4 linked regions of the Homo sapiens genome follow. The protein of the gene in region 1 purifies or fractionates together with the protein of each later gene. This does not show direct contact. Each region holds a gene or a part of one and is shown in the gene's direction. Other genes may lie near its edges. The genes, in order: IRGC, RPS6KA2, RAP1GDS1 and TMT1B.

What was found.
Region 2: the proteins of IRGC (region 1) and RPS6KA2 purify together in Homo sapiens (affinity purification with mass spectrometry; 2 studies listed by BioGRID and IntAct, with this or other methods). This does not show direct contact.
Region 3: the proteins of IRGC (region 1) and RAP1GDS1 purify together in Homo sapiens (affinity purification with mass spectrometry; 2 studies listed by BioGRID and IntAct, with this or other methods). This does not show direct contact.
Region 4: the proteins of IRGC (region 1) and TMT1B purify together in Homo sapiens (affinity purification with mass spectrometry; 2 studies listed by BioGRID and IntAct, with this or other methods). This does not show direct contact.

Annotation. Positions count from the first base shown.
Region 1 is NC_000019.10:43,711,619-43,719,083, forward strand, and holds the start of IRGC (interferon-inducible GTPase 5), read left to right. Parts: upstream 1-4,457; 5' UTR 4,458-4,524; intron 4,525-5,258; exon of another isoform or gene 5,259-5,331; intron 5,332-6,761; exon of another isoform or gene 6,762-6,829; coding exon of another isoform or gene 6,830-6,940; coding exon 6,941-7,465. UniProt on the Homo sapiens protein: Required for sperm motility and therefore male fertility, via positive regulation of spermatozoa fibrous sheath formation.
Region 2 is NC_000006.12:166,624,252-166,631,931, reverse strand, and holds the start of RPS6KA2 (ribosomal protein S6 kinase alpha-2), read left to right. Parts: upstream 1-4,680; 5' UTR 4,681-4,912; coding exon 4,913-5,011; intron 5,012-7,680. UniProt on the Homo sapiens protein: Serine/threonine-protein kinase that acts downstream of ERK (MAPK1/ERK2 and MAPK3/ERK1) signaling and mediates mitogenic and stress-induced activation of transcription factors, regulates translation, and mediates cellular proliferation, survival, and differentiation.
Region 3 is NC_000004.12:98,264,382-98,271,402, forward strand, and holds part of RAP1GDS1 (rap1 GTPase-GDP dissociation stimulator 1), read left to right. Parts: intron 1-7,021. UniProt on the Homo sapiens protein: Acts as a GEF (guanine nucleotide exchange factor) for the Rho family of small GTP-binding proteins (G proteins) that stimulates the dissociation of GDP to enable subsequent binding of GTP.
Region 4 is NC_000012.12:55,677,434-55,684,756, forward strand, and holds TMT1B (thiol S-methyltransferase TMT1B precursor), read left to right. Parts: upstream 1-4,302; 5' UTR 4,303-4,321; coding exon 4,322-4,819; intron 4,820-6,379; coding exon 6,380-6,616; 3' UTR 6,617-7,178; downstream 7,179-7,323. UniProt on the Homo sapiens protein: Thiol S-methyltransferase that catalyzes the transfer of a methyl group from S-adenosyl-L-methionine to alkyl and phenolic thiol-containing acceptor substrates.

The DNA of each region.
Region 1 (7,465 bases):
AGTCTTTTTTTTGTTGTTGTTTGTTTTTTGAGATGGAGTCTTGCTCTGTCACTCAGGATGGAGTACAGTGGCATGATCTCAGCTCACTGCAACATCCGCCTCCCAGGTTCAAGCAGTTCTTCTGCCTCAGCCTGCCAAGTATCTGCAATTACAGGTGCACATCGCCGCGCCCAGCTAATTTTTGTATTTTTAGTAGAGACGAGATTTTGTCATTTTGGCCAGGCTGGTTTCAAATTCCTGACCTCAAGTGATCCACCCGCCTCAGCCTCCCAAAGCGCTGGGTTACAGGCATGAGTCATCATGCCCGGCCTTTTTGTTTTTTTGAGACAGGGTCTGGCTCTGTTGCCCAGGCTGGAGTACGGTGTTGTAGTCATTGCTCACTGTAACCTTGAACTCTTGGAATCAAACAATTTTCCCTCATCAGCCTCCCAAGTAGCCAGAACTACAGGCAAGTGTCACCACACTCAGCTAACTTTAAACATTTTTTGTAGAGATGGGGTCTCACGATATTGCCCAAGCTGGTCTCAAACTCTTGGCCTCAAGGGATCCTCCCAACTCGGCCTCTCAAAGTGCTGGGATTACAGGTGTGAGTCACCATGCCTGGCCCCTATCTCAGCTTTGGACACGCCTTCTTCACTGAGCTTAATCATTTCTAGCTTTTGATTTAAAGTGAGAGACACGTGACTCTTCCTTTTACTTGGATACTTGGAGGCCATTTTAGAGTCATTAATTGGCCTAATTTCATTATAGTTGTGTCTCACAGAAGAGGGAGGTGCAAGGAGAAGGAGAGAGACAGGAAAATGGCCAGTCAGTGGAGCAGTCAGAACACATACAATGTTTATCAATTAAGTTTGTTGTTACCTGTGGGCACAGTTTATGGTGCCCCGAAATGATTACAATGCTAACATCAAAGATCACCATACCAGAGATAATGATGATGAAAAAGTTTGACATGTTGTGAGAATTTCCAAAATGTGACACAGAGACATGAAATGAGCACGTGCTGTTGGAAAAATGGCACCAACGGGCTTGCTGGACACAGGGTTGCCACGAACTTTCAATTTGTAAAAACCATAGTATCAGGCCAGGCGGGGTGGCTCATGCCTGTAATCCCAGCACTTTGGGAGGCCAAGGCGGGAAGATCACTTGAGGCCAGGAGTTCAAGACCAGCCTGGCCAAGATAGCAATACCCCATCTCTATTAAAAATACCAAAACAAGCCGGGCATGGTGGCGCATGCCTGTAGTCCCAGCTACTCGGGAGGCTGAGGTAGGAGAAGCCCTTGAACCTGGGAGGTGGAGGTTGCAGCGAGCCAAGATCATACCACGCACTCCAGCCTGGGCAACAAGAGCAAAACTCCGTCTCAATAAATAAATGAATAAATAAATAAATAAAACAAGAGTTGGGCATGGTGGCGCGTGCTTGTGGTCCCAGCTACTTGGGAGGCAAAGGTAGTAGAGATTGCTTGAGCCCAGGAGGTGGAGGTTGCAGTGAGCAGAGATCACGCCACTGCACTCCAGCCTGGGTGGCAGAACAAGACCCTCTTCTCCACCACATCCCCGCCCCCCCGCAAAAAATACCACATAGTATCTGTGAAGGACAATAAAGCTGCATGCAATAAAATGAGGTGTGCCTGAAATTGAGTTTATTATTGAACGAATGAAAGTTCTCTCTCAACTCAGGTTCTTTGCAGAGGCTGGTCCCTTAGCCTGGGATGCAACTCCCTAATGTGCCATCTGGCTCACTCCTACTCATCCTTTGGATCTCAGGTCAGGTGCCCCCTCCTCCAGGAAGCCCTCCCTGACTCCCAGGCTGAGTCGGGCTTCCTCCTTTGTGCTCCCACAGCCCTCTGGGGTCCCCCATCCCAGTGCTGCCCCCTCTGTCATCATTATCTTGGGATGGATCTGACTCCACCACTGGACTCTGAGTCCTGTGGGGGCAGAGCCTGGCTGTCTTGTCCATTGCTGCGTTTCCAGCATGCAGATAGGCAGGGTGCAACCCCTCTCTCTCTGGCTGGTGCTCTCAGGAGCTGCTAGGGGCATCCCTGGGAACATGCCAGTCTGCATCGGTGCATGTGTGCAGGTGGCAGTGGCTCTCTTTCTTGGTCCACAATCATCCTGGGCTGCAATAATCTCCATTTTCTCGGGCCTGGAGCCCCTGAAGCAGTGCCTGGGTTTGATGCATCTCTGGAGCCCTAGCTGCTGCAGCAGAATGAATGAGGTTCCTGAATGGAGTCAGTGGGTTTCGGGGTTTCTGTATATGTTGTCAGTGTGTAACTGTGTCTCTTAAAGTCTGCACATCTGTGTCCCGGAATGTGTGTGTTTGCGAGGCTTTGGTAAGTGTGTGTTTGTCTGAGTCTTGCTTTCCTTCAGTGACTCTGTTGTTTTGTTTCGTTTAGAGACAGAATCTTGCTCAGTCACCCAGGCTGGAGTGCAGTAGCATGATCACGGCTCACTGCAGCCTTGAACTCCTGGGCTCAAGCAATCCTCCCACCTCAGCCTCCTGAGTAGCTGGGACTACAGATGTGCACCATCATACCTGGCTCATTTTTTTTTTTTTTTTAAGAGATAGGGTCTTGGCCAGGCACGGTGGCTCACGCCTGTAATCCCAGCACTTTGGGAGTCCGAGGTGGGCGGATCACGAGGTCAGGAGATCGAGACCATCCTGGCTAACACGGTGAAACCCCGTCTCTACTAAAAAATACAAAAAAATTTAGCCAGGCGCGGTGGCAGGCGCCTGTAGTCCCAGCTACTCGGGAGGCTGAGGCAGGAGAATGGCAGGAACCCGGGAGGCGGAGCTTGCAGTGAGCCGAGATTGCACCACTGCACTCCAGCGTGGGAGACAGAGCGAGACTCCGTCTCAAAAAAAAAAAAAAAAAAAAGAGATAGGGTCTTGCTATGTTGCCCAGGCTGGTCTCAACCTCCTGGGCTCAAGCAAACCTCCTACCTCGGCCTCCCAAATTGCTGAGATTACAGGCGTGAGTGAGCCGCCATGCCCAGCCACGAAGTAACTCTGTATTTGAGGCTCTTTCTGTGTCTTTCCCTTCTCTCTTGGGCCAGGGGTGCGTGTCCATGCATTTTGGGAAGGAGTCCTTGCTGTCTGCTGGTCTGTGTGCTCGGTGTCCGGGGAAGTCTGAGAACCATGTTGTTCACTCTCTTCAGCTCTGTGTGTTTGTGTCAGTCAGTGAGAGCATGAGTGAGTCGTGTGTCTTTTGCCCTGCACCTCCCTTTCACCTGTGGCTTAAGAACTCTGTACTATGCGGCCAACAGCCCACTCTTCCCCAGCTCTCAGGGTGGCTCTGAGCTAGTCTATTCCCCTTCTGGGCCTCTCTCTCCTTAGTTGTTCTCAGAGGCTCCTTTCCAGAACTGGCCTGCAGATGGTCAGGAAAATCCTCTGAGTAGCGTTATTGTAAATTCCCTACAAGAGGAGAATGGAGAAGGCCCTGTGGAGCCTGGCCTGGGCAGAGAGGAAGCCCGGAGGGGAGACAGGACAGAGACACTTATAAAGGACAAGAAGGGGCCGGGTGTAGTGGCTACACCTGTAATCTTAGCGCTTTGGGAGGCGGCATAACCTGAGGTCAGGAGGTTTGGGAGGCGAGGCAGGCGGATAACCTGAGGTCAGGAGTTCAAGACCAGCCTAGGCAACATGGTGAAACCCCACCTCTACTAAAAAAAAAAAAAAAAAAAAAAAATTAGCCAAGCCTGGTGGTGCATGCTAGTAGTCCCAGCTACTCAGGAGGCTGAAGCAGGAGAATCACTTGAACCCAGGAGGCGGAGGTTGCAGTGAGCCAAGATTGTGTCACTGCACTCCAGCCTGGGTGACAGAGCAAGACACTGTTTCAAAAAAAGAAAAAAAAGAAATCAATGACTAAATTATTGGGCTTACAAGATAGCAGATCAGCCTCCCGAGTAGCTGGGACTACATGCATGCACCACATCTGGCTAATTTTTGTATTTTTAGTAGAGATGGAGTTTCACCACATTGCCCAGGCTGATCTCAAACTCCTGGCCTCAAGTGATGCACTCGCCTCGGCCTCCCAAAGTGCTGGCATTACAGGCGTGAGCCACTGTGCCCACCAGCAATGACCGAATTTGTATCATCAACTTTCACACTTCTCTGGGGAACTGACAGTCCCCTGGGTGGAGGGTGGAGTGGTAGCAGGGCCAAGCCCTTGGAAACCAATCTGTGAATCTGAGACTTTGTCCTTGGGGGGTGATGGAGACCATGGAGGATTTTGAACAGGTCTTGGTGTTAGAAAGATCTCTCTGGAGTCTTCAGGGGAACTGGAGGGCCCAGTGTGAGTGGGTGGTGACCCCATGAGCAGCTGGGGCTTGGGGTCCCTGCTCCACCTCCGGGCCCCACCCCCTGACATCACTGTCGCATTATTGCACCAGGTCTGGCTGACCAATAAGCTGCTGCTTGCTATGATAATGGGTCCTAGCAACGGTGTCTGACCTTGGCTAAGAGGGAAGGAGATCCTATCAGTGGGGAGAGTGTGAGGGGAGAGGGAGAGCCTGCAGGGCAGGTGAGTCCCCCAGGGCTCTCTCGCTGGGCCCCTGTGCGTGGGCGGAGCAGGAGCTTATGGTCTAATCCGGACCCCCTCAGCCCAAATTCCAACCACTGACTTGTCTGCCCCTTGCTGCCAGGACCTGTTCCAGGTTCCTACTCTTCCCACCGCAGACCATACTAGGGAGAGGGCACACCCAGGATAGGAGGCTCAGATCTGGAGGCAACAATGTCTTTTTTTTTTCCTTTTTTTTTTTCTGAGACGGAGTCTCGCTCTGTCGCCCAGGCTGGAGTGCAGTGGTGCAATCTTGGCTCACTGCAACCTCCGCCTCCTGGGTTCAAGAGCTGGGACTACAGGCATGCGCCACAACACCTGGCTAATTTTTGTATTTTTAGTGGAGATGGAGTTTCACCATGTTGGCCAGGCTGGTCTCGAACTCCTGACCTCAAGTGATCCACCCACCTCGGCCTCCCAAAGTGCTAGGATTACAGGCGTGAGCCACCATGCCCAGCCGGGAACAATGTCTTAAGGACATATTTCTGTGGGGGGTGGAGTGGGGTAGCAGAGGATGGGGTGAGTGGTAGGAGGTGAAGAGACGGGGTGCAGGGGGCAAGGAGACAATGCAGGAGGCAGGGACATGCAGCTGAAGGGAGAGTAGCTCTCTAGGTGGGTGAAGGAGCCTGGGGACCTGGGTTGGGGTCCTGGCTATGCCTCTGGATGAGGAGACCTCATTTGTCTTGTCTGAGCCTCAGTCCTTCTCCCTGTCAAATGGGGACAGTGATCCCAGACATGAGCAGCTCTCCCAGGGCACCCTGAAGACCCTTAGTGAGTAAATGTATTTTAGAGATGATGGGCCAGAGGAGGGTGAGTGGGAAGAGGGAGGACCAGGGAAGCTCCTGGTGAGGAGGAGGGATCTGAGGGGGGACCATCACGACAGGAGCTCTGGGCGGTGGGAGGGGAACTGAACCCCGGGAGGCAAGGGCTGCCATGGCAGGGGTGGGGTTTCATGGAAATGACTCCTGGTGTCCAGGTGGTCCCCATGTCTGGCTTCCCGAACCCAAGGGCGTCTGAACCCAAAGTCAGCCTAGGGCTAGCTGAACGGGGTTTGTGGGCATCACAGCAGCCCTGCGAGGTGGGGAGGAGTATCCCCCACGGGGCAGCTGAGGCTCAGACAGGGCGAGGACTTGCTCAAAGTCACACAGCTAAGAATATTACTAATGATAAGAATAATGACGATGATGGTGATGCCAATGACACGAGGCACCTGCCCTGAGCCAGGCGCCGTTTTATGGGCTGCTTTATGTCATAACTCATTCAAGTCACAGAGATCCTAGGAGGTGGTTTGCCAGGATTGTAGGTATCATTCTCAGTGTTCAGATGAGGAGAGTGAGGAGAGAGTTAAGTAACTTGCCTCACATCACTCAGTAAGTATGTGGTGGAGCCAGGATTTGATCCCAGGCAGTCTGGCTCCGGGTCTGGGTCCCCTCCACCCTACCCTCCAATCCCAGCCACCGCAGGAGTGCAGCTGTTTCCTCTGAATGGGCCTGTACCACCCTTTCCTATGCAGCCCTGGCTATGTAATTTGCCCTGGCTATATAATTTGCAAGGCCCAGTACGAAATGAAAATATGGGGCCCCTGGTTCAAATATTATAAAGAATTTCAGGCCAGGCATAGTGGCTCATGCCCTTAATCCCAGCGCTCTGGGAAGCTGAGGCAGGAGGACCTTGATCTCGGAAGTTCAAGACCAGCTGGGACAACATAGTGAGACTCCCATCTCTACAAAAAATTTAAAAAGTAGCTGGGCATGGTGGCATGCGCCTGTGGTCCCAGCTGTTCAGGAGGCTGAGGTGGGAGGATTGCTAGAGCCAAGGAGATCAAGGCTGCAATGAGCCATGATCGTAGCACTGTGCTCCAGCCTCGATGACAGAGAGACCCTGTCTCAAACAAACAAACAAACAAACAAACAATTTCAGCTAGTGTCAGCAGAGCATTAAACCAAGCACTGGGCCATTCTAAGCACAGAACCCTCCAGGGCACACATACACCCAGAAAACTGACCTGTGCCTAGGTTACCCTGGAGACTCCAATAGTGCTCCAAGAGGCTGCTTGGTGGTCATGCCCATTACCCAGAGAGGTGCTTCATTTTGCCCCTGGTCACACAGCAAGTTAGTGGCAGAAAAGGGATGTGAACCTGGGCCTGCCAGACCCCAAAGCCCTCTAACTTGTGCCAAAAATGTGTCCCCAATTCTTGAAGGAAAAAGAGAGCTGTGGGCTTCCAGGGCGACTCCCTTCACATCCGTGGTATCTGTCTCTCCCTGCCCCATGCCAAGGCCCAGGAGGTGTGAATGGCTCCCTTCTCCTCTGCAGGCGCTGAGGATCACGCATCCTGTGACTCTCCCCTGTCCCCCGCCACCCTCTGAACCACTGGCCACCATGGCTACTTCAAAGTTGCCCGTGGTGCCTGGGGAGGAGGAAAACACCATCCTTATGGCCAAGGAAAGGCTGGAGGCCCTGCGCACAGCCTTTGAGTCGGGTGACCTCCCCCAGGCCGCCTCTCACCTCCAGGAGCTGCTGGCCTCCACGGAAAGCATCCGCCTGGAGGTGGGCGTCACGGGCGAGTCGGGCGCGGGCAAGTCCTCCCTCATCAATGCCCTGCGTGGCCTGGAGGCCGAGGACCCTGGCGCGGCTCTCACGGGCGTCATGGAGACCACGATGCAACCGTCGCCCTATCCACACCCACAGTTCCCTGACGTGACCCTCTGGGACCTGCCAGGAGCCGGCTCTCCAGGCTGCCCGGCTGACAAGTACCTAAAGCAGGTAGACTTCAGCCGCTATGACTTCTTCCTGCTGGTCTCCCCCCGCCGCTGCGGGGCCGTCGAGACCCGCCTGGCCGCTGAGATCCTGTGCCAGGGCAAGAAGTTCTACTTTGTGCGCACCAAGGTGGACGAGGACCTGGCG
Region 2 (7,680 bases), on another chromosome or scaffold:
TTGATTTAGGTCTTTTCGAGGCATTTACACCTTAGCTGATACTGGTGCTGCCCTGAGGTGCCACCTGTCTGGGCTCCGTTTGCCGCGCAGCCTCTCTCTGGTCTGTCTCTGCTCCGCTGTGTCTATGACTGCTCTGTGTGTTCGCATCTATCTCTTGGGTTCCACTGTCTCAAAGAGAAAAAGGGCTCACTGAGGCAGGGCCCTCCCTTCTCGCTGTTTGGGAGTCATGACTCCAGCCGTGCTCCGCTGACACCATGGAAGGCACCAGAGTGCCCCAGGCAGAGGGACGAAAAAAAATCTGTGTTACCAGGAAAGTTATTTGATCAGCCTCTCTGTAGATTCTGGCCCTATGGTTTATAAATGGGTTTCAAAAGAAAGTGGTATGAAGGAACATAGTATTTAAAAACCAATAAAATCCAAAGCTGTCCTCACAGCGGGCTGGCGGGGGAGGTGTTGCAGGTGAAGCCCACCTTCTGTGAGCCCTGTGCCTTCCTACCCAGGTTGGATGGGGGATGAGGGCTCCAGCGGGGAGGGAGGAAGCCAACCATGATGGTTTCCACAGCTTGAAACCCAATGTGGTTTTTCTTCCTAAATGTAAGCCAGTCAATAAGGGTCAAGTACAACTGGCCTGTGGGTTTCCACCTGCCTCTCCTGACTACTCAGAAACCAGGCCCTCTGGTTTCAAATGTAAATTCCATTTCCTGGTACTTCACCATTAGAGCTTTATTTCTGTCATTTTGAAGACTTTTACGCATTAAGACTTTCTTTTTAAATTTTCGATATGCTCAGAGATTTTAAACTGTTAAACTGAGGGCACAGGTGTCATTCTGACATGGCTTGGTTGGCACCCAGATGTGAATGAGACCCAAGTGTCCTGTGGGTGAGGGCCAGGGGCCAGCCAGAGACCAGAGGCAAACTTGATCCCTTCTGACTTTTGCCGAGGGCCCAAGAAGCCCTTCCCTGACAGCTCCAGGCCCCTTGCTGACACCTGCTCCGAACGTGCCCCCACCTGAACTGTCCACTACAGTTTACCTTCTAGGGTCTCAGGACTTTAAGACCATCTTCCTGAGCAAGGACTAATTCCTACATTCAAGAAACTTCAAAGTCATAAACATTTCAAGTACACGGGGATCCACAGCCCAGGAAAAGGATTCCTTTCTGTACACTCAGGGACTACACTAAGGGAAGCTTGACTAAACCCATTTGTATCACAGCCACAGGAAGTAGTTCACAGGGGCACACACTGAAGCCCACCTCCCTCCCTCGTACTGGCTGGACACTGTCTCTGGAGCATCCAGCAGGATGCCTGTGATGGGCAGAGCCTTCGAATGCTGATACTCCGGAAAAGCACGACTTCCTGCTTTCGCAGATGGCCAGCACCAGGTGACCCTGGTGATCCTGGTGAAGTTTTGCATCAGGTGAACCTAGTGAATTCACCTCCCATGGCAAAACTTTAGTCCTAATGAAGACCGAATGTTTCAATTTATTTTAAAGATATATAGTTTCACTTGAAGTGCAATTTAGCGTTTTATTGAAAATATGTGGGAGTTTTAGAAGCTTGAAACTTTCAGCAGCCTGTAGGACTGTTTGGAGACGAACAGACATTTGTGGTACTTGACTAATTAGAAGCTCTTGGATGTCACTCAAGCCACTCCTGTGGGGTGCCCCGAGAATGTGGCATCTTCCCATATGCAGAGAGCACACCAGCCTTACCCACAAGGTGCCTGTGTAGCAGGGAGAGATGGGAAACCTTGTCACAGCTGCCTGACAGTGCCCTGTTATTCCTCAGCCTGGGACTCCCGCCTCCTCTTGTCTGTCCAGGAAACTTATTCCCTCATCTTCTTACCCTCAGGGGTTCAGAGCAAAGGCCATCTCCTCCTTGACTTCGCCAATTAGAATTGGCTTCTCATTCATCTCTTACGCATTTCTTTCACTTTACATAAAAACGGCATGAGCTTTGTCTGTTCACTCACCTTCTCTTCCATAAGACTGTGAACTTCTTGGGATGTTGTAATCATTTTGTGTCACAAATGACCACCACAGTGCCAGATGTTAGTGCTCGATAATCACTTGTGGAATTGCATTGACCACACATCAGCTAATCTGGTACTCATAGAAGCAGCAGTCACCACGGAATTCAGTCTCAAACTTACTGTGCTTGAGTCAGAGGAAATGTGAGATACTCAGAGGTCTACCAAGCTCTTTATCTTCTCTTCAGTCCTCTCCCATTCCATCATCTGGGCAAGAGCCTTTATCAAGTTCACTTTCTTTTCTGGTATTTGGTAAGGATAATTTGGATTTCGGTTACAGTGGGTCTTGATATTATACCTACCCTAGATTTAGTGGTTTTGGAGGATTTCATTACATAATCACATGAAGTAGTGTTCCATGATCACTAGAGATTTTGGTATACGTGTATTTTACCAGGAGAAAAACAAAGGCAAACAGATTTATTGTTCTAGCAATGAATTCCAGTGAAATCTGAATGATTTTCCCTCCCAAGTTCAACAGAACAGTTTTGTTGCCTTCAAATTTGGGGAACTAATGAATGTCCCATGAAATATTTCCTTTCCAATTTTGTCAGATCAGGTCAAAATACTATTGTTGGTACAACACAAGCCTTGACTTAGGCCTGCCTGCCTTGGGGCTTTTGTCCTGAACAGGATGCCCATGAGTTGGTATAGGTGGCATTCAGCACTCCTGTCTCCGGCCAGTATTACTGGCTCCCCTTCCGAGGGAAGCATGGTCGGGTTGGTCCTCCCTCATTCCCGGAGTCTGTGTCCAGTTGGAGGTCCATCTACCTCTTCCCGTGCTGGGTACAGAGTGTCTTTGTGTTTGCCTAGAGCCAGGATGCCTGAGGGTCCCAGCAGGGATACAGGGCACTAAGAGGCTGGTTCTGAGAGCACAGATTACTACCCTCCCAGCAGAACCTTAAAGGAAGCAGGCAAAGCAGTTTTCATGGGCACTTAACTGGCACACCATCTTGAAAAGGAGCAAAAAGTGGTGTTTGGTGTCCTTGTGGGGTCCTGCACTTCTGTTTTTAAAGAATAGTCATTATAGATCCTTTAATACATAATATGAAAATCAATTGCACTATTTAAATTCACAAAGCACTCCCACATCCGTGATCTTGCATAAGCCTCTTGGTATCCAGTAAGGGAGGTGAGACAGGTTTCACTCGTATTTTCCTCTTAGAGATGAGTCGTGGGAACAACGTGCAACGGCACCCAAGTTCACCAAGCAAGGAAGGGGCAGCGCCAGAGTCGTGGTGCTAAACTCCCGGCTTCCACTCCGGAGCAGCACCGCTCAACGCGGGTCTCCAGGAAACCCAGAGAGCCTATCTGACCTCACCTCAGCCCGGATGCAGCATGACTTTAAAGCTCTTATTTAAGGACATTCTGACCTCTCTACCCACCTTAGCCAAAATAGACTACACAAGTATTAACGCAACATCTGACTAGTCCAGGGAGCAAAACAACGCGAGGATTTTGCAGTTCGCACTGCAAAAGAGCAAGCAAGACTTGTCAACTCACCACCGCACTCGTTTCTGCTCTTTGCAGGTGGTGATGGTGCTATGTCAATGGGCTCGGTTTCTCCCTGTTTTTAAATACAAACTCAACACGTGCACAAGAGGAAAACAGAGCAGGCTGCACGGGGTCGTGAGCCCGCATTCTCGGCCCTGCTGCAGCCCTTGGTGAGCATTTCTAGGAAAAAAAAGAAAAAAGTGTTTCCCTTTAAGGCGGATCCCGAGCGGCGCTGCCGCCAGCAGCGGGTCTGAGGGCCTTGCCCTAGACCCAGGTCACCCCGCCCGGGTATTCCCAGCGCGGGCCCTGATAAGCCATCTGTGTAGACGTTTCCTAGAGCGGGACCGGCTGCGGAGGGCGGATGCGTCTTTGTTCTGCAGCCGCGGGAGGGAGGCGCCCCGAGGGCTGCCTGAGCCCCCGCCCTCGGGCGCCTTTGTCCGCTCCGGCGGAGGGAAGGCGCCGGTTCCGCGGAGGGCGGCTCCTGGCCGAGCTGCAGGGCCCGCTGGCAGGCGGCGGTCCCTCGCTCGCTGTGCCGCTGAGGTTTTGGCTGCGTTTGCTGATCAACAATTAAAGTTTGGTTCGGCAGAGAAAAACATGATGACAAAGTGTGCATAGGGATGTTTTAAGGAAGGAAAACATAATGACGGCCCCAAGCTGGAAGAAAGAGCAGCCGGGCCGAAGTTGCGTGACAGGAACGCCCGCGACTGCGCGGCTCCGGAGCAGCTGCACAACTCGCCCGGGCCGGGAGCTGTCCCGGGCCGAGGCTCATTAGGTATGCGGCGGCTGCGGGCACTGATTGGCGGGCAGTGCTGTGGGCGGGGCCGTGGGCGGAACCGCGTGGGGGCGGGGCTGCACGGAGCTGGTTCTTGTAGGAAGGAGTAGAAAGAGGAGGAGGGATGGGCACCTGGAACCACAGGGCGGCGCTGATGATTGGAGGTATCGGCAGAGGCGGGGCTCTCCCGGGCGGGGCGGTGGGCTCTCATTGGCAGTGCTGGTGGTGGGTGGGAACGGGAGGGGTGGTGAGCGCTGATTGGCCGTAGTGGCGGGGCGGGGCGGAGGAGGAGGAGGTGTGCGTGCCGGGGCGCGGAGCGGCGGGCGCTGATTGGTGGTAGTGGTGGTGGGCGTGGTGTAGGCGTGGCGCGTGGCCGGCGCTGGTACTCGCAGGGGAGGCGGAGAAGGAGGCGGAGGGAGCGATTGTGGCCCCGGCCGCGGTGGCCGGCGCGGCCTGCCCTTTGTGACCGCAGCTCGCGCCCCACGCCCCGCGCCCATGGCCGCCGTGCCGGGCTCCCTGGCCACGCGTGCCCGCCCGCGGACCTGAGCCCCGCGCCTGGGATGCCGGGGATGCGCGTCCCCCGGCCCTGCGGCTGCTCCGGGCTGGGCGCGGGGCGATGGACCTGAGCATGAAGAAGTTCGCCGTGCGCAGGTTCTTCTCTGTGTACCTGCGCAGGAAGTCGCGCTCCAAGAGCTCCAGCCTGAGCCGGCTCGAGGTAATGCGGCCGCCCTCGGGGCGCGCAGGTGCCGGGCACTGAGCGGGCCGTGGTCGCCCGAGCCCGCCTCGCCACCCCTGGGTGGACCCCGAGACCCGTCAGGGAGTTCAAGTTACTGGAAAGCTGGTCCGGTTCCGAAAATCGAACCAAACGGCTCCAAACGTTATCGCTGGGACTCCGTAGTAATTGGGCGGTCCGTGGGTCCTCGCGGGGGCAACTCCACCCCCACTGCATTTCCAGCTGGTTTCTCCGCCGCTGGCTGCACGGGGTGTGGGATGGTCCCCTGTGGGCCACAGGGAGCCCCGGGTGAGGAGGGGCTTTCTCTGCAGCTAGACCGCCGAGTGGCGCGGAGCGCTCCGCGGGGGTCCCTCAAAGTCCCGAGTGGAGAAGCCCCCCAGCTCCGCCCTCCGAGGCGCTGATCAGGTGCTGTCTGCCGTGCCCGGCCGGCAGGTTCCACCTTATCTTGTAGCTCATTCGTGCACTTGAAGTCAGTGTAGAATTCACAGAACGGGGAAGAACAGGCAGCAGCACAATCTGCTTAGGCGTCTAAAACGGCGTTCAGGAGTAAAGAGCCTGATGCAATATCCTCGCAGCGCCGAGGCTGATACAGATTCGTCCTGAAAACCCAGAGTACTCCCAAAGCCCTGTCCTTTCTACCTGTCCCGCATCTTGGCATCTTAGAGTTTCCTTGTGGACGGTTCTCTCGTGGTGTGTTTTATTTCAACCATCAAATCTTATTCTCTTATTCCCAGTGTCCAAATCACATTGTTGAATCTATAGATGACAAAACAGTGAAACGTGTTTAAGTGAAAAAGACATGGTGATGGGGAGACTGAGGCTGGGACCCAAAGATTTCGCCTGACACTGTCCCGCCTTTGCCTCAAGGCTGGCACCTGTGGGGTTTTGGTTGGTTTGTTTCAGCTGGAACAATCTCAAATGTTTCATCTTGGTTTTCTTTGTCCCAGCTGCCATGATATTAGACACAGACATGGGTTCTGTAACCATTGAGAGACCTGAGGAATAGACAAAAAAGTAGAAGAGAATTACTTGTTTAAAAAGTTTCTCTTATGGCATCCCTAAATCAGAATTGGAAGTACTAGATAGGATCAGTATGGCCGGTTCCCGAGGGTAAAACACATCTTTCAAACAAAACTGTTAATCCAGTACTGGAGGAGGGCTTGCTTTTAAGTCTAATATTGAAAGAAATGAAGCACACCAGTGAGGCAAATCATTTTCCTGGGACACAGGCACTTAAAAAATCTGAAGTTGACAAGATCAGAAACTCAGAACAGTATTTATCTTTATCCGGATACATGTCTTTGTTTCCTGTTTCATCTCAATGCCAAGTTTATTAGACAACTCCTTGTCTCCTTCCATTTACTGTCTTTGCCAAGAAGAGGTACACGTGTGAGCACACTCCAGGCATTGTTTATGAAGAGCAGCACTAGACACTGGCTGACCAGTGGGAGTTCAGGAATCTGCCTGATTCTGGATACACACGCCTCTGGTGTCACAGGGTTCTGCAAGGAGGGCTGGGCTGCAGGCGTGCCTCCGGAAAGAATACAGTGGGAAACAAGCGGGGGGGGGGGTGGGGGGGTGGTGGGAATAGGAAACGAGGTTTCTTCCATGTAGAAATAAAATTTCTAGAAGTCATACATAAACCATCAGCGATGTAGGAGGTCAAATGGGCTGAAAATACATGTAGTCTAAGAGCAAGTAGTCAATTAGTGCTTCCTGTGTGCCAGATCCCGTACTAGGTGCTGGAGGTCTCACTAAGATGGTCAATAATGGCCGGGCGCAGTGGCTCATGCCTGTAATGCCAGCCCTTTGGGAGCCTAAGGCGGGCGGATTATGAGGTCAGGAGATCGAGACCATTCTGGCCAACATGGAGAAACCCCATCTCTACTAAATATACAAAAATTAGCTGGGCATGGTGGCGCGTGCCTGTAATCCCAGCTGCTCAGGAGGCTGAGGCAGGAGAATCGCTTGAACCAGGGAGTCAGAGGTTGCAGTGAGCCGAGATTGCGCCACTGCACTCCAGCCTGGCGAGAGAGCGAGACTTGTCTCAAAAAAAAAAAGGTCAATGCTAATACAATGCTCTCTTTTTTACAAATGCATTCCCCAGCTTTCTATTATTTGATACTTGTGAAAATCGGGGTAGCATATGTAACTTTCCTCATTCTATTGCTAAGGGGAAGAAACCCTGAGAGTTTGAGAGTCTTGTTAAAAGCTTTCCAAGGAATTCATTCTGCAAGTGTTTATGGAGGACCGGGTCTTGGGCTGGTCTTTTTCTGGATACTGTGTCCAAAAAGACACGAGACATAGAAGTCCTGGCCTCAGGGCACTTCCACCCAGTGATGAGTCTCACAAGCAGCTGACTTTGTGCCCCAGTCCAGTAAGTTCCTCTTCTGCGCCCTACCCATACTTGAGAAGGCTGCCTGTTCGTTTGTGTGTTCACAGCTGGTTATAGGCCAAGAAGCACTCATCAAAAAATGTAAAACTGAGCAGGGGAGGTCTGTCAATGGATTGAGGTTGAGAAATAGGACACAAAGTACTGAACACAGATGTGTATTTCCTCTGTGTGGATGAATGAGAAAGATAACTTGTTTTATAATAGGAAACATTTTAAAATTGTTTCTGTGAAATTTATATTTTGAAATATACAAAGA
Region 3 (7,021 bases), on another chromosome or scaffold:
GGGAAACTCTGTCTCAAAAAAAATATATATATATATTCTCATGGCAATAATTTCCTACACAAGAGAGTGAAAGAAAAGTCCTATATAACTTTATGGCCATAGCTACTATTTTATGTATATGTCATATTTCAGATTCAACATACATTTAGTGTTTGTTGGATATCAACTGTGCAGTGTACTGTACTACAGTGTACTGGGAGGACAAAGATAAAAAGATATTCATGTTTCACATTTATAATCTTAGCAGGAACAATATGACACATACACAAATTATAATAGAAGTAAAAGTATAAGTTATATAAAAGACCTTTACATATATTATAGATTCAGAGAATGGAGAGAACGTTTTAGAGAAATGGTGTTATTTGAACCAAAGGTGGGTTAAACTTCTTAAAGGTAGAAATGAGACTGTTAATCAGAATGGAGTTGGTCTGGGGTTGGAAGAGAAATGACATAAATGAAGATAGATAGGAAACATTTTATGAATTTCCAGGATATGATTAAACAGCATTGTTTGGCTAGAGCAAAAGGTAAGGAAATAGTGGGTAACAGACATGAAAAAGTAGTACAGTAATAGCTAATGACCAGATAATGTAGGATCTAAAATGCCAAGCTGAAGAATTTTAATCTGACTTACCTATTGAGAGACCACTAAACATTTTTATGTAGTTAAGTGATGGATCACATCTGTGGTATAGGAAAATTTGTCAGTTGAGTGCAGGATCGATTAGATGAGAAACTACAGAACACTTCAGAAGATTGTTGTTGGAGTTTGGACGAAAATGTTTAATGGCTTGAACCAGGTTATGGCAACGGGAATAGAATATTGCAAATAAAGAATAGGATTTACTTGGCAACCCATTGAGTATGGAATTGAGAGTCACAGGTTTTAGCCTGGGTGATAATGAGGATACGAGAATCTCCTGATACATATTCAGTTAACAGGAAGAGGAAACTTAGATACTCAATTTTGGACCTATTGCATTAGACTTTTTGGTCTGTCCTTTAGTCTCTGCTCCTTGATAACAAGGACGTTGTCATATTAGGATTTGAATACATTTCTAACACTAGTGTCTGGCACATAGTAGCTACATAGAAAAATTGTGTTGACTGACTGAAACTAGATAAAAAATAGTTGACAAACATTTATTTTAACTTTCGAGAGTACAATTTGAATTAGAGATCTGGAAGTTATCCACAAATATCCTGAGGTGATATTTGAAGTTAGATCAGAGGACAAGAGTCAACAAAGAAAAAGAGGAAAATTGTTCATGGTAAGAATCTTGAGGAATGGGGTTCCTTAAGTTTTCCGTAGTTAGGGAAAAAGGAATGGTATGATTTCACACTGAAAAACACAGAAGTCAGAGTGAAAGACTAGAATTGGTATATGGTTGGTTTTAAGAAAGAGTGAATAGTTAATAAGGTCTGTTTTTTCAGAACAGTCAGGAGGGTGATAGGGACTGAGAACAGGCTCTAAGTGCTTTGGTTAGGATATTACCCAGTATATTTTTCTAAAAAGCCACTTTAAGAGGTTTAGTAGATATGGAGGTCAGTTGTAAAGGCTAAGTGAATAATAAGTGGAAACAGTTCACTAGGTATAGTCATGCTGTATTTCTCACCTTGTTTAAAGATCTGTGAGAAAACATAGATTTTTAAAAATATTTTTAACTCACTCTGCATGACAGATATTACATTTTAGAAAATATTTTAAAATTTTAAATGTATTTTAATTTACAAATTAAAAAAATTATTTTAATGTTACATTTTACATGGAAGGACATGTGCTGTTTTCATGTCTAAGGATAATTTTTAATTTCACCATAGTGCCTCACATTTCTCTGACATTTCATTTTTAATGTCTTTGTGACTTAGTATAGTACAATTTTTATTTTTATAATGTCTGTCATGCAGAGTGAGTCTAGAATGATTTTATAATTTTGCATGGCATTTTGCCTAAACAATACTCTTTACTGATGAATGGTTTTATCACTTTTACTCTTAGACTTTGTGAATTTGAGACTTCTTTAGATTATAGGTATGCTTCTAATTATATTTTTAATTCCTGGAGTTGTAGTTTTCTCTGTAGATAGGTATCAAACTTATAGTCATTTTATTTTGCCTGTATTTCCAAGTCCAGGAATGGTTTTCATAGCTAAATAATAAATACTAATTTTGCCTGATCTTTGCAAGTCTAGGCAGGGTGATAAAATATTTTTGAAAGCTGGTAATTACTAAAATTTATGATTTCAAAAAAGCATAGATGCTAGCTTGGTAAATTTAAAAATTTTTCTTATGTTGGCATTATATCTGTTTTGTATATGTCTTTTTTCATATGGGAGAAAGGTTGAATTCACTATCCTTGGTAGTCATATTCTGAAGTCTGTACTACTACTATTTGAAAAATTATAATAGCCTTAACTCTTTTTAAGAACCAAAATGATTTTGCTTTCATAGTGGAATCTTGGAATTTCTAGGTGACTTTGGGGAAATAGTGTGGATGCTCTCCAGAAATTCCTGATTGAACCTGAGATTGAACATAGCAATTCTGGAGTTATTGGTGGCACTAACAACAGCCATCAGAATTACCTAAATTTTAATATCCAGTCATGAACATCAGGAGGAATGAAGGAGGAAGATTCAGTCCTTTGGGAACCTGATGTAATTTTAGATAGCCAAATGTTTGGATAACTGATAAGGAAAAAGTTTAATTTAAAATACATGTTGATGTTGAGTTCAGTTTGCCAGTATTTTGTTGAGGATTTTTCTATTTATGTTTATTAAGGATATTAGCTTGTAGTTTCTTTTCTTGTAGTATCATTGTCTGGCTTTGGTATCAGGGTAATGCTGGCCTCATTAAATGAGTTTGGAAGTATTTCCCTTCATTGTTTGGAAAGAGTTTGAGGAGGATTGGTATTAGTTCCTTTTTTAAAATAATTTCAACTTTTAGTTTAGGTTCAGAGGGTACATGTGCATGTTTTTTACATGGGCATGTTATGTGACACTTTGGAGTATGAATAATCCCATCACCCAGGGGTTTGGAGTATGAATAATCCCATCACCCAGGTAGTGTGCATGGTACCCAGTGGGTAGTTTTTCAGCCCTTGCCTCCCTCCATTTGTCCCCCTCTAGTAGTCCCCAGTATCTGTTGTTCCCATCTTTATGTCCATATGTACACCCAGTGCTTAGCTTCCGCTTATAAATGAGAACATGTGGTATTTGGATTTCTTGTTTCTATGTTAATTTGCTTAGGATAGTGGCCTCCAGCTCCATCCATGTTGCTGCAAAGGACATGATTTCATTCTTTTTTGTGGGTGCATAGTATTCCATGGTATATATGTGTCACATTTTCTTTATCCAATCCACTATTGATAGGCACCTGGGTTGTTTTCATGTCTTTGTTATTGTGAATAGTGCTGCGATGAAGATCCAAGAGCATGTGCCTTTTTGGTAGCATGATTTATTTTTCTCTGGAAATATACCCAGTAATGGGATGGCTGGGTCAAATGGTAGTTCTGTTTTAAGTTCGTCGAGAAGTCTCCAAATTGCGTTCCACAGTGTCTGAACTAATTTATATTTCCACTAACAGTGTAAAAACATTCTCTTTTCTCCACAGCCTTACAGCATCTGTTTTTTGTTTGTTTGTTTTTACTTTTTAATAATAGCCATTCTGACTGGTGTGAAATGGTGTCTCATTGTGGTTTGATTTGCAGTCTCATCACATTAAGAGGATCATACGTCATGATCAAGTGGGATTTATCCCTGGGATGCAAGAATGGTTGAACATACACAAATCAATAAATGTGATACACCACGTTAACAGAATGAAGAACAAAAATCATACGATCATCTCAGTTGATGCAGAAAAAGCATTTGACAAAATTCAACATACTTTCATTTTTAAAACTCTCAACAAATTTGGTGTAGAATGAATATGCCTAAACATAGTAAAGGTCCTATATGACAAGCCCATAGCTAACATCATACTTAATGGTGAAAATCTGAAAAGTTTATCTCAGATTGAGAAAAAAAACAAGGATGCCCACTCTTGCCACTGCTATTTAAGATAGTACTAGAAGTCCTAGCAGAGCAAATAGACAAGAAAAAGAAATTAAAAAGCATTCAAATTGGAGAGTAAAATGATCTGTTTAAAGATAGCATGGTCTTATACATAGAAAGCCTTAAAGACTCCTTGAAAAAAAAGACAAAAACTATTAGTCCTAATAAATGAATTCAGTAAAGTTTCAGGATACAAAATCAGCATAGAAAAATCAGAAGCATTTCTATACACTAACAGCAAACTTTCTGAGGATGTAATCAAGAAAACAATCCTATTTACAGTAGCTGCAAAAATATAAAATATTTAGGAATAGATTTAACCAAGAAGGTGAAAGATCTCTATGCTGAAAACTGTAAGACATTGATGAAAGAATTTGAAAAATTAACAGATATCCCATATTCATAAATTGGAAGAATTAATATTGTTACAATGTTCATAGTACTGAAAGTGATCTACAGATTCAATGTAATCCCTATCAAAATTCCAGTGAAACTTTTCACAGAAATAGCAAAACAATTCTAAAATTTGTATGGAACCACAAAAGATCTGAATAGCCAGAATAATCTTGAGCAAGAAGAACAAGGCCAGGGGCATCACACTACATGCTTCAAGTCATGTTACAAAGCTGTAGTGATCAAAACAGTATGGTACTGGCATAAAAGCAGACACATAGATCAATGGAACAGAATAGAGAGGCCAGAAATAAACCCAAGAATTTACAGTCAATTGATCTTCAAAAAAAAAAAAAAAAAAAAAAGCCAAGGAAACACAATGGGGACAGGACAATCTCTTCAATAAACACTGTTGTTAAAACTAGATACCCACATACTGAAGAATGACATTGGATCCTTATTCATCCCATATACAAAAATCAGCTCAAAATGGGTCAGAGATTTAAACAAAAGATTTGAATTTGAAAAGCATAAGATGCGCGCAAGAAAATACTGGAGAGAAGCTCCATAAGATTGGTGTTGGCAATGATTTTTTGTTTATGGCACCAAAAGCACAGGCAACAAAAGCAAAAATAAACAAATGGGACTTCATCAAATTAATAAGTTTCTCTGTAGCAAAGGAAACAACAAAATGAAAAGGCAGCTTACATAATGAGGGGAAATATTTGCAAGCCGTATATCCGATTAGGGGTTAACACGTAAAAATAATCAGGAACTCATACAACTCAGTAGCTAAAATAAAATAAAAATACAGGTTGAGGATCCCTAATTCAAAATCTGAAATGCTTCAAAATCTGAAACTTTTTGAATGCTGACATGACACTCAAAGGAAATGCACATTGCAGCATTTGGATTTTTGGTTTCAGATTTTTGGATTAGGGATGTTAAACCAGTTAGTATCATGCATGTATTCCAAAATCTGAATAATTTCAAAATCTGAAACACTTCTGGTCTAAAGCATTTTGCATAAGGGATACTCAATCTGTATTTACCTAGATGTAAATAATAAATGAATATATTAGAATAGGTTATTGTCTCAGTCCATTTTGTGCTGCTATGACAGAATACTGCAGACTGGGTAATATATAAAGAACAGAAATTTATTCTATCAGAGTTCTGGAGTCTGGTAACTACAAGATCAAAGTGCCTGCAGGTTTGGTCTTTGGTTTCAAGATGAGGCCTAGTTGCTGTGTCCTCCAAAGAGGAGAAACCTTGTGCCCTCACACAACAGAAAAGCAAAAGAGAAAATCCACTCTGGTAAGCTCTTTTTATAATGCCATTAATCTATTTATGAGGGCAGAGCCATCATAACCTAAACACCTCCCATTACCTTCCAGTACTGTTGTGTTTAAGTTTCAACATGAGTTTTGGAGGGGACAAAAACATTCAAACCATATAGTTATAAAGACTATTTCAGTTATAAAAGCCTGTGATTCCTTGAAACTGAAGTTTGAAATATACTCCATATCATTGGTATCTTAAATATAACCTCTATATAACTTGTTTTTCTTTAGTGTTCAAATGGTAATGTATACTTGAGGTAGCAACTTAAGGGTTTGAACCAACTTTAGCTTTGTCTGAATAAATGACCTAAAAAAACATTTCTCAAGCTGGCTAAGATATGGATGCTGGATTCAAATTGCAGGTGAAATAATTCTCTCAGTGCTTCTATTTATATAGCTTTTGTAACTAGAAGCATTTCAGGAGTTAAAACCAAGGACTAGGTTAGTGATAAATGGAAGTGGTTAAATTGAGCTCTTAGCTATGATTGGCTGTACAGTTGACCGTTGAATAACATGGATTTGAACAGCGCAGTTCCACTTCCATGTGGATTTTTTTTTTTCAATAAAAGCTATACCAAGTGAGTTGCCTCTCCTGCCTCCCCTTTTACCTCCTCCACCTCTGCCACACCTGAGACAGCTAGATGAACCCCTCCTCTTCTCAGCCTACTCAAGAGTGACTATAATAAGGATGAAGACCTTTATGATGACCCACTTCCCATGTAATGAACAGTAAATACATTTTCTCTTCCTTCCATTTTCTTTTCTCTAGCTTACCTTATTGTAACAATATGGTATTTGATGCATATGGTATATGATGCATATAACATACATAATATGTGTTAATTGACTGTTTATGTTATTGGTAAGGCTTCTGGTCAGCATTAGGCTATTAAGGTTTTAGGGAGTTAAAAGTTATGTGTGGATTTTTGACTGAGTGAGAGGGGGATTGGTACCCCTAGTGCCTGCATTGTTCAAGGGTCAACAGTACTTGTTAATTCCAAAGTCCTTTTTGTTCACAAAATGACTTTAGGTACTTATTGGTACTGAAATATATTTATTAATATCTGGGCTACATCTTTGTATTTAGCAGATTAGTAGACATCTCTACTAATTAAACTCATTGAGTTCAAAATAAAACTCATTTTATAATTTTTAATAATGATAATTAGAGGGGTGCTGGTAAATGTTTAACTAAACGCCTTTCTCCAAAATAGCCCTGATTTGTGATG
Region 4 (7,323 bases), on another chromosome or scaffold:
TTTGTTAAAAGCTAAGACACAAAGACACACATTAGCCTAGGTCTACACAAGGTCAGGATCATCAAGACATCACTACAGGACAGGGATTTTTCAGCTACATAATAATCTTATGGTACCTCCATCATATATGTGCTCTGTCATTGAGCTAAATGTGTTATGCAGCACATGGCTGTACAGTTGACCCTTGAACAACTCAGGACCTAGGGGACTGATACCCCTCACAATTGAAAATCTGTGTATCTGCAGGGTGGGGAACACCACACATTGGGGCCTGTCGTGGGGTGGGGTGGGGGGAAGGATAGCATTAGGAGATATACCTAATGTAAATGACCAGCTAATGGGTGCAGCACACCAACATGGTACATGTATACATATGTAACAAACCTGCACGTTGTGCACATGTACCCTAGAACTTAAAGTGTAATTAAAAAAAGAAAATTTAAAAAAATATATATGTGTGTCTGGCCAGGCATGGTGGCTCACGCCTGCAATCCCAGCACTTTCAGAGGCCGAGGAGGGTGGATCACGAGGTCAGGAGATCGAGACCATCCTCACTAACTCGGTGAAAACCCATCTCTACTAAAAATACAAAAAAAAATTAGCCGGGCGTGGTGGCGGGCGCCTGTAGTTCCAGCTACTCGGGAGGCTGAGACAGGAGAATGGCATGAACCCGGGAGGCAGAGCTTGCAGTGAGCAGAGATCATGCCACTGCACTCCAGCCTGGGTGACAGAGCAAGACTCCGTCTCAAAAAAAAGAAAAATTAGCTGGGCATGTTGGCATATACCTGTGGTGACCACTACTCAGGAGGCTAAGGTGGGAGGATTGCTTGAGCCTGAGAGGTTGAGGCTGCAGTGAGCTGTGATCGCACACTACACTCCAGCCTGAGTGACAGAGCAAGGCTATCTCAAAAATAAAAAATAAAATGAAAATTTCTAGAAAAGGAAATACAGAGGCTCTTAATTATAAGAAACAAAAATTCAACCTCACGCAGAAAAGAGTAAGTAAGCCGGGCACGGCAGCTCATACCTGTAATCCCAGCACTTTGGGAGGCCGAGGCTGGTGGATCACCTGAGGTCAGGAGTTCGAGACCAGCCTGGCCAACATGGTAAAACCCTGTCTCTACTAAAAATACAAAAATTAGCCAAGTGTGGTGGCATGCGCCTGTAATCCCAGCTACTCGGGAGGCTGAGGAGGGAGAATCGCTTGAATCCGGGAGTCGGAGGTTGCAGCAAGCCGAGATAGTGCCACTGCACTTCAGCCTGGGCGACAGAGTGAGACTCTGTCTCAGGAAAAAAAAAAAAAAAAAAGGAAAAGAAAAAGAAAAGAGCAAATAAAAAGCACAGGATAATACTACTTTGCCTCTTTCTGTGTCCATGGAGCAGGCCCAGGAGCAATTACTCCCCAGTGATAATCACATCCAGCATTCAGATCTTGGTTTTTAAATACCATCCTCCTCACAAAAGACCAGTGCTTCTTTGAGAAATAACTAAGTTCGGGGCTGGAGCAGGGGAAATACAAGATGAGCCTGGAACATCTTCTTGTAGCAGAAAGTAAGAAAATGCTCAAAGAGTGATGGAGTTGTGTCAAAAGGAGACAGGAGCCAGCTTGCAGGTGCTCCCCCAGCCAAATCTAGGGCAATTTGAACATCAAAATACACACCCAGGTATTCACCCAAGAGAAATAAAAGCATACGTCCACACAAACCCATGTACACAAACAGTTCATAGTAGCTTTATTTCTAACAGTCAGAAATTGGAAACAACCCAAACGTTTATCAACAAGTGAATGGATAAAAATATATGTGGTATATCCATACAATGGAATACTACTCAGAAATGGAAATGAACTGCGGATGCATGTACAACATGGATGACTCTCCAAATAAACATGCTGAATGAAATAAGCCAGATGCTGAAATCCCATACATTATAGGATTCCATTTACACAAAATTCCAGAAAATGCAAACTATTTGGGAGGCCAAGGTAGGCGGATCACCCGAGGTCAGGAGTTTGAGACCAGCCTGGTCAATATGGTGAAACACCGTCTCTACTAAAAATACAAAAATTAGCCGGGCATGGTGGTGCATGCTTGTAATCCCAGCTACTCAGGAGGCTGAGGCAGGAGAATCACTTGAACCTGGGAGGTGGAGGTTGCAATGAGCCAAGATCAAACAACTGCACTCCAGCCTGGGCCACAGAGTGAGACTCTGCCTGAGAAGAGAAGAGAAGAGAAATTAATCTATACTGACAGAGAGCAGATCAGCGGTTACCTGAAGATGGGGATGAAAGAGGGGCGAATGGATTACAAAGAAACACAAGGAAACTGATATAGTTTGGATGTTTGTCCCCTCCAAATCTCATGTTGAAATGTAATCCTCAATGTCAGAGGTGGGGCCTGGTGGGATGTGTTTGGCTCCTGAGGTCCCAACCCCTCATCAGTGGCTCAGTGCCAACCCCTTGGTGATGAGTGAGTTCTCGCTCTGGCAGTTCACGCAAGGTCTCTCTTGCTCCCTCTCTTGCCATGTGATACACTGCTCCCCTTCGTCTTCCACCATGATTGTAAGCTCCCTGAGACCCTCACCAGAGGCCAAGCAGATACTGGTGCCATGCTTCCTGTGCAGTCTGCAGAACTATGAACCAATTAAACTTTTTTTCTTTATAAATCAACCAGCCTTAGGTATTTCTTAACAGCAATGCAAAAGCCTAACACATAGACATGTTCATTATCTCGACTGTGGTAATGGTTTCCCAGGTATATACTGTGTCAAAAATAATCTATATACTGTAAATATGTAAACCTTCTTATATATATTATACCTCAAAGAAACTGTAAATAAATAAATAGGGTATTAGGTTACAAATCAGTGAATAAAATAGGAATCTATGCATCAATAATAATATGAACACATAAAAGACACATAAAACCAAATATTGCTGGTGGACGTGTAAATGGGTACAATCACTTTGGAAACCCATTTGCTATTATCTACTAAATCCAATACATTGTTAAGAAGGGGGGGAAGCAAGGTATACAAGAGTGTGTACAATATACTACTATTTGTAAAAGAAAAGGGAATATGTATATGTATATATGTACATGGATCTAAACACGTGGTGTGTGTGTTCCCTGCTCGTTCACAGGTCATCTCTGGAAGGATTCACAAGAAATTGGCAATATGGCATTTAGTGCCTCCAGAGAGGAGATCTGAGTGGTTGGGTCACAGGAGTAGAAGAGAGAATTTTCCCTGTAATCTCTTTAGTATCTTTTTAATTTTGTACTAAGTGAATGTACTGCCTCTTCCAAAAAAAGTTGTTTAATAATGTTTTGTAAAAAGAATTCTTCTCAGCCAGGCGCAGTGGCTCCCAACTGTAATCCCAGCACTTTGGGAAGTCGAGGTGGGTGGATCACCTGAGCCCAGGAGTTCAAGACCAACCTGGGCAACAGGGTGAAACCCTGTCTCTACAAATTACAGAAAAAAAAAAATTGCTGGGCATGGTGGTATGCACTTGTAGTCCCAGAAAATCAGGAGGCTGGTGTAAGAGGATCACTTGAGCCTAGGGACATTGAGGTTGCAGTGAGCCCAGACTGCTGCCACTGCACCCCAGCCTGGGCAGCAGAGACCCTGTCTCAAAAAAAGGAAAGAAGGAAAGAAGGGAGGAAGGGAGGGAGGGAGGGAAGGATCTCTAAAAAGTGGCTATTCTCTGACCTCACTTCCCCCTATTTGTCCAACTTACCCCATTCCCCACAGAACTAAACTTCTCACCCTTTCCAGGAGAGGGCATGCTGTCTCTGTCCTGTACACCTACTTTTTCCTCTGCCAAGAGCACCCTTCCCTTCCTATGGCCCCTCTGAAGTGCCTGACCTGAGGACGAAATGAGGCCAGGATATGTCCCATGAGTCAACTCTGTCCCCAGCATTCACCACTACCAACCCACCCCCAACGCCCTGCCAGCCCCCGACACTCCCCCGCCATGAGTCTGTCATCTGAAACATATCCCCTTACCCCTTCCCACTCCCTCTGAGATGACTCAGCAGCCCCTGCCCCCCTTCAGCTGGGCACAGTGCCCCAGAACTCAGGAACATGGGTACCACCTGTCCCTCCGCCCACATAAAAGTCATTGAAGAGCTTGTGGGGCTGTGGGACCTGCGCCCTCTGGAGGAATTCCATACACCCACTCAACTCTGGCAAATAGGAAATTGTCAAGTAGGAGACAAGGAGCAAAGTCCTATCACAGCGGGAGGGGACGCCAGCGCCTGCAGAGGCTGAGCAGGGAAAAAGCCAGTGCCCCAGCGGAAGCACAGCTCAGAGCTGGTCTGCCATGGACATCCTGGTCCCACTCCTGCAGCTGCTGGTGCTGCTTCTTACCCTGCCCCTGCACCTCATGGCTCTGCTGGGCTGCTGGCAGCCCCTGTGCAAAAGCTACTTCCCCTACCTGATGGCCGTGCTGACTCCCAAGAGCAACCGCAAGATGGAGAGCAAGAAACGGGAGCTCTTCAGCCAGATAAAGGGGCTTACAGGAGCCTCCGGGAAAGTGGCCCTACTGGAGCTGGGCTGCGGAACCGGAGCCAACTTTCAGTTCTACCCACCGGGCTGCAGGGTCACCTGCCTAGACCCAAATCCCCACTTTGAGAAGTTCCTGACAAAGAGCATGGCTGAGAACAGGCACCTCCAATATGAGCGGTTTGTGGTGGCTCCTGGAGAGGACATGAGACAGCTGGCTGATGGCTCCATGGATGTGGTGGTCTGCACTCTGGTGCTGTGCTCTGTGCAGAGCCCAAGGAAGGTCCTGCAGGAGGTCCGGAGAGTACTGAGACCGGTAAGCAGGGTGGGAAGGGGATGGGTGTGGGGCAGGCAAACGCAGCATCAGCCGCCCCAGGGTTCGGCCCCCAGAATGGGGCGTCTGAGGTAGTAAGTAGCACATTAGACACCCCATCCACCTCTACCTGCTGGTGAATAGGAGACATGACCAGTGCCATGACGGGGCACAATTGGGTGCTGTGGAAGCAACAGGAGGATCACCTACCACCATGGGACAGGGAGGGGAGTGGGGAGGACACCTAAGGAACTGAGGTTTAAATCGAGATCTGTGCTTGGGAGGCTGAAGCAGAAGGATGACTTGAGCCCAGGAGTTCAAGACCAGCCAAGGCAACATAGTGAGATGCCGTCTCTACAAAAAAAAAAAAAAAAAAAAATACAAAAGCTAGCCAGGCGTGGTGGCACATGCCTATAGTCCTAGCTACTCAGGAAGCTGAGGTGGGAGGATCACTTGAGCCCGAGTTCAAAGTTACAGTGAACTATGATCGCACCACTGCACTCCAGCCTGGGCCACAGAGTGAGACCCTGTATCAAAAAAAATAAATAAATAAATAAAAAGAGAGAGAGAGAGAGAGATCTGAGGGATTAAGCAGAGTGTGGACGGGGTGGGGAAAATAAAAGAGTGTTCTAGGTAAAGATAGTAGGGGAAGTAGAGTAGAATCCATCAGACTGTGGAGAGAACGTTCAGAATAGTTTCCAGGTTTCTAGCATGAGCAACTGAGGGGAGAGCTGATGAAAAGTGCCATTTGCTGAGATGGAAGAAAGCTGTTTTGGACTTACTAGGTTTGAGATCACCTAGGGAGAGTATAGTGAGGCGAGGAGCTTGAGGAACCCCAGCTTCAGTCAAGAGTTGGGCCTGAGGTTTCCCTGGGATGTTCACAGCGATGTCCAGGAAGCAGCTTGTGCATGCATCTGGGTTTTGTGAGAGAGGTTGTGCGTGTATCTCAGAATACAATAAGCCCAGCTGGGCGAGGTGGCTCACGCCTGTAATCCAGCACTTTGGGAGGCAAGGCAGGTGGATCTCTTGAGGCCAGGAGTTTGAAACCAGACTGGCCAACATGGTGAAACCCTGTCTCTACTGAAAAATACAAAAAGTAGCCGGGCGTGGTGGCTCATGCCTGTAATCCCAGCTACTTGGGAGGCTGAGGCAGGAGAATCGCTTGAACCTGAGAGGTGGAGGTTGCAGTGCGCCGAGATCACGCCATTGCACTCCAGCCTGAGCAACAGACTGAGACTCTGTCTCAAAAAATAATAATAATAATAATAATACAATGAGCCCTCCACTCCTGTTTCTCAGTTTCCCCTTCTGCATGCCCTCGGTTATTCTGGTCAGGCTTTAAAGATCTCCCACCAGCCACTCCTTTCAGTTATGAGGTTCTTCACATGCACTTTGAAGGCGGTAGCAGGGGATGCAGAAAAGGTCAGGGGCACGACAGTTTGCTCCATGAACTCTCAGACCAGCAGCTCCCATTTCACCAAGAAGTTTGACTGTCTTGATCAGCGCGATAGGGAGCAGGGTCAGAATGGAGCCAAGTGACACTAACTCTCTCATCCCTCCCAGGGAGGTGTGCTCTTTTTCTGGGAGCATGTGGCAGAACCATATGGAAGCTGGGCCTTCATGTGGCAGCAAGTTTTCGAGCCCACCTGGAAACACATTGGGGATGGCTGCTGCCTCACCAGAGAGACCTGGAAGGATCTTGAGAACGCCCAGTTCTCCGAAATCCAAATGGAACGACAGCCCCCTCCCTTGAAGTGGCTACCTGTTGGGCCCCACATCATGGGAAAGGCTGTCAAATAATCTTTCCCAAGCTCCAAGGCACTCATTTGCTCCTTCCCCAGCCTCCAATTAGAACAAGCCACCCACCAGCCTATCTATCTTCCACTGAGAGGGACCTAGCAGAATGAGAGAAGACATTCATGTACCACCTACTAGTCCCTCTCTCCCCAACCTCTGCCAGGGCAATCTCTAACTTCAATCCCGCCTTCGACAGTGAAAAAGCTCTACTTCTACGCTGACCCAGGGAGGAAACACTAGGACCCTGTTGTATCCTCAACTGCAAGTTTCTGGACTAGTCTCCCAACGTTTGCCTCCCAATGTTGTCCCTTTCCTTCGTTCCCATGGTAAAGCTCCTCTCGCTTTCCTCCTGAGGCTACACCCATGCGTCTCTAGGAACTGGTCACAAAAGTCATGGTGCCTGCATCCCTGCCAAGCCCCCCTGACCCTCTCTCCCCACTACCACCTTCTTCCTGAGCTGGGGGCACCAGGGAGAATCAGAGATGCTGGGGATGCCAGAGCAAGACTCAAAGAGGCAGAGGTTTTGTTCTCAAATATTTTTTAATAAATAGACGAAACCACGAAACCACTAGACTGATGGCAGCAAACTAAGGTCAGATGAGAGGGGAAACTAGAGAAGGAGCAGCCTGAGTCAGTGACACAACCTCCTCCCCGACCCTCTAGGTTAAGGCACTTCCGGGGAGGCAGGTCCTTGGGGTCCTGTTACACAG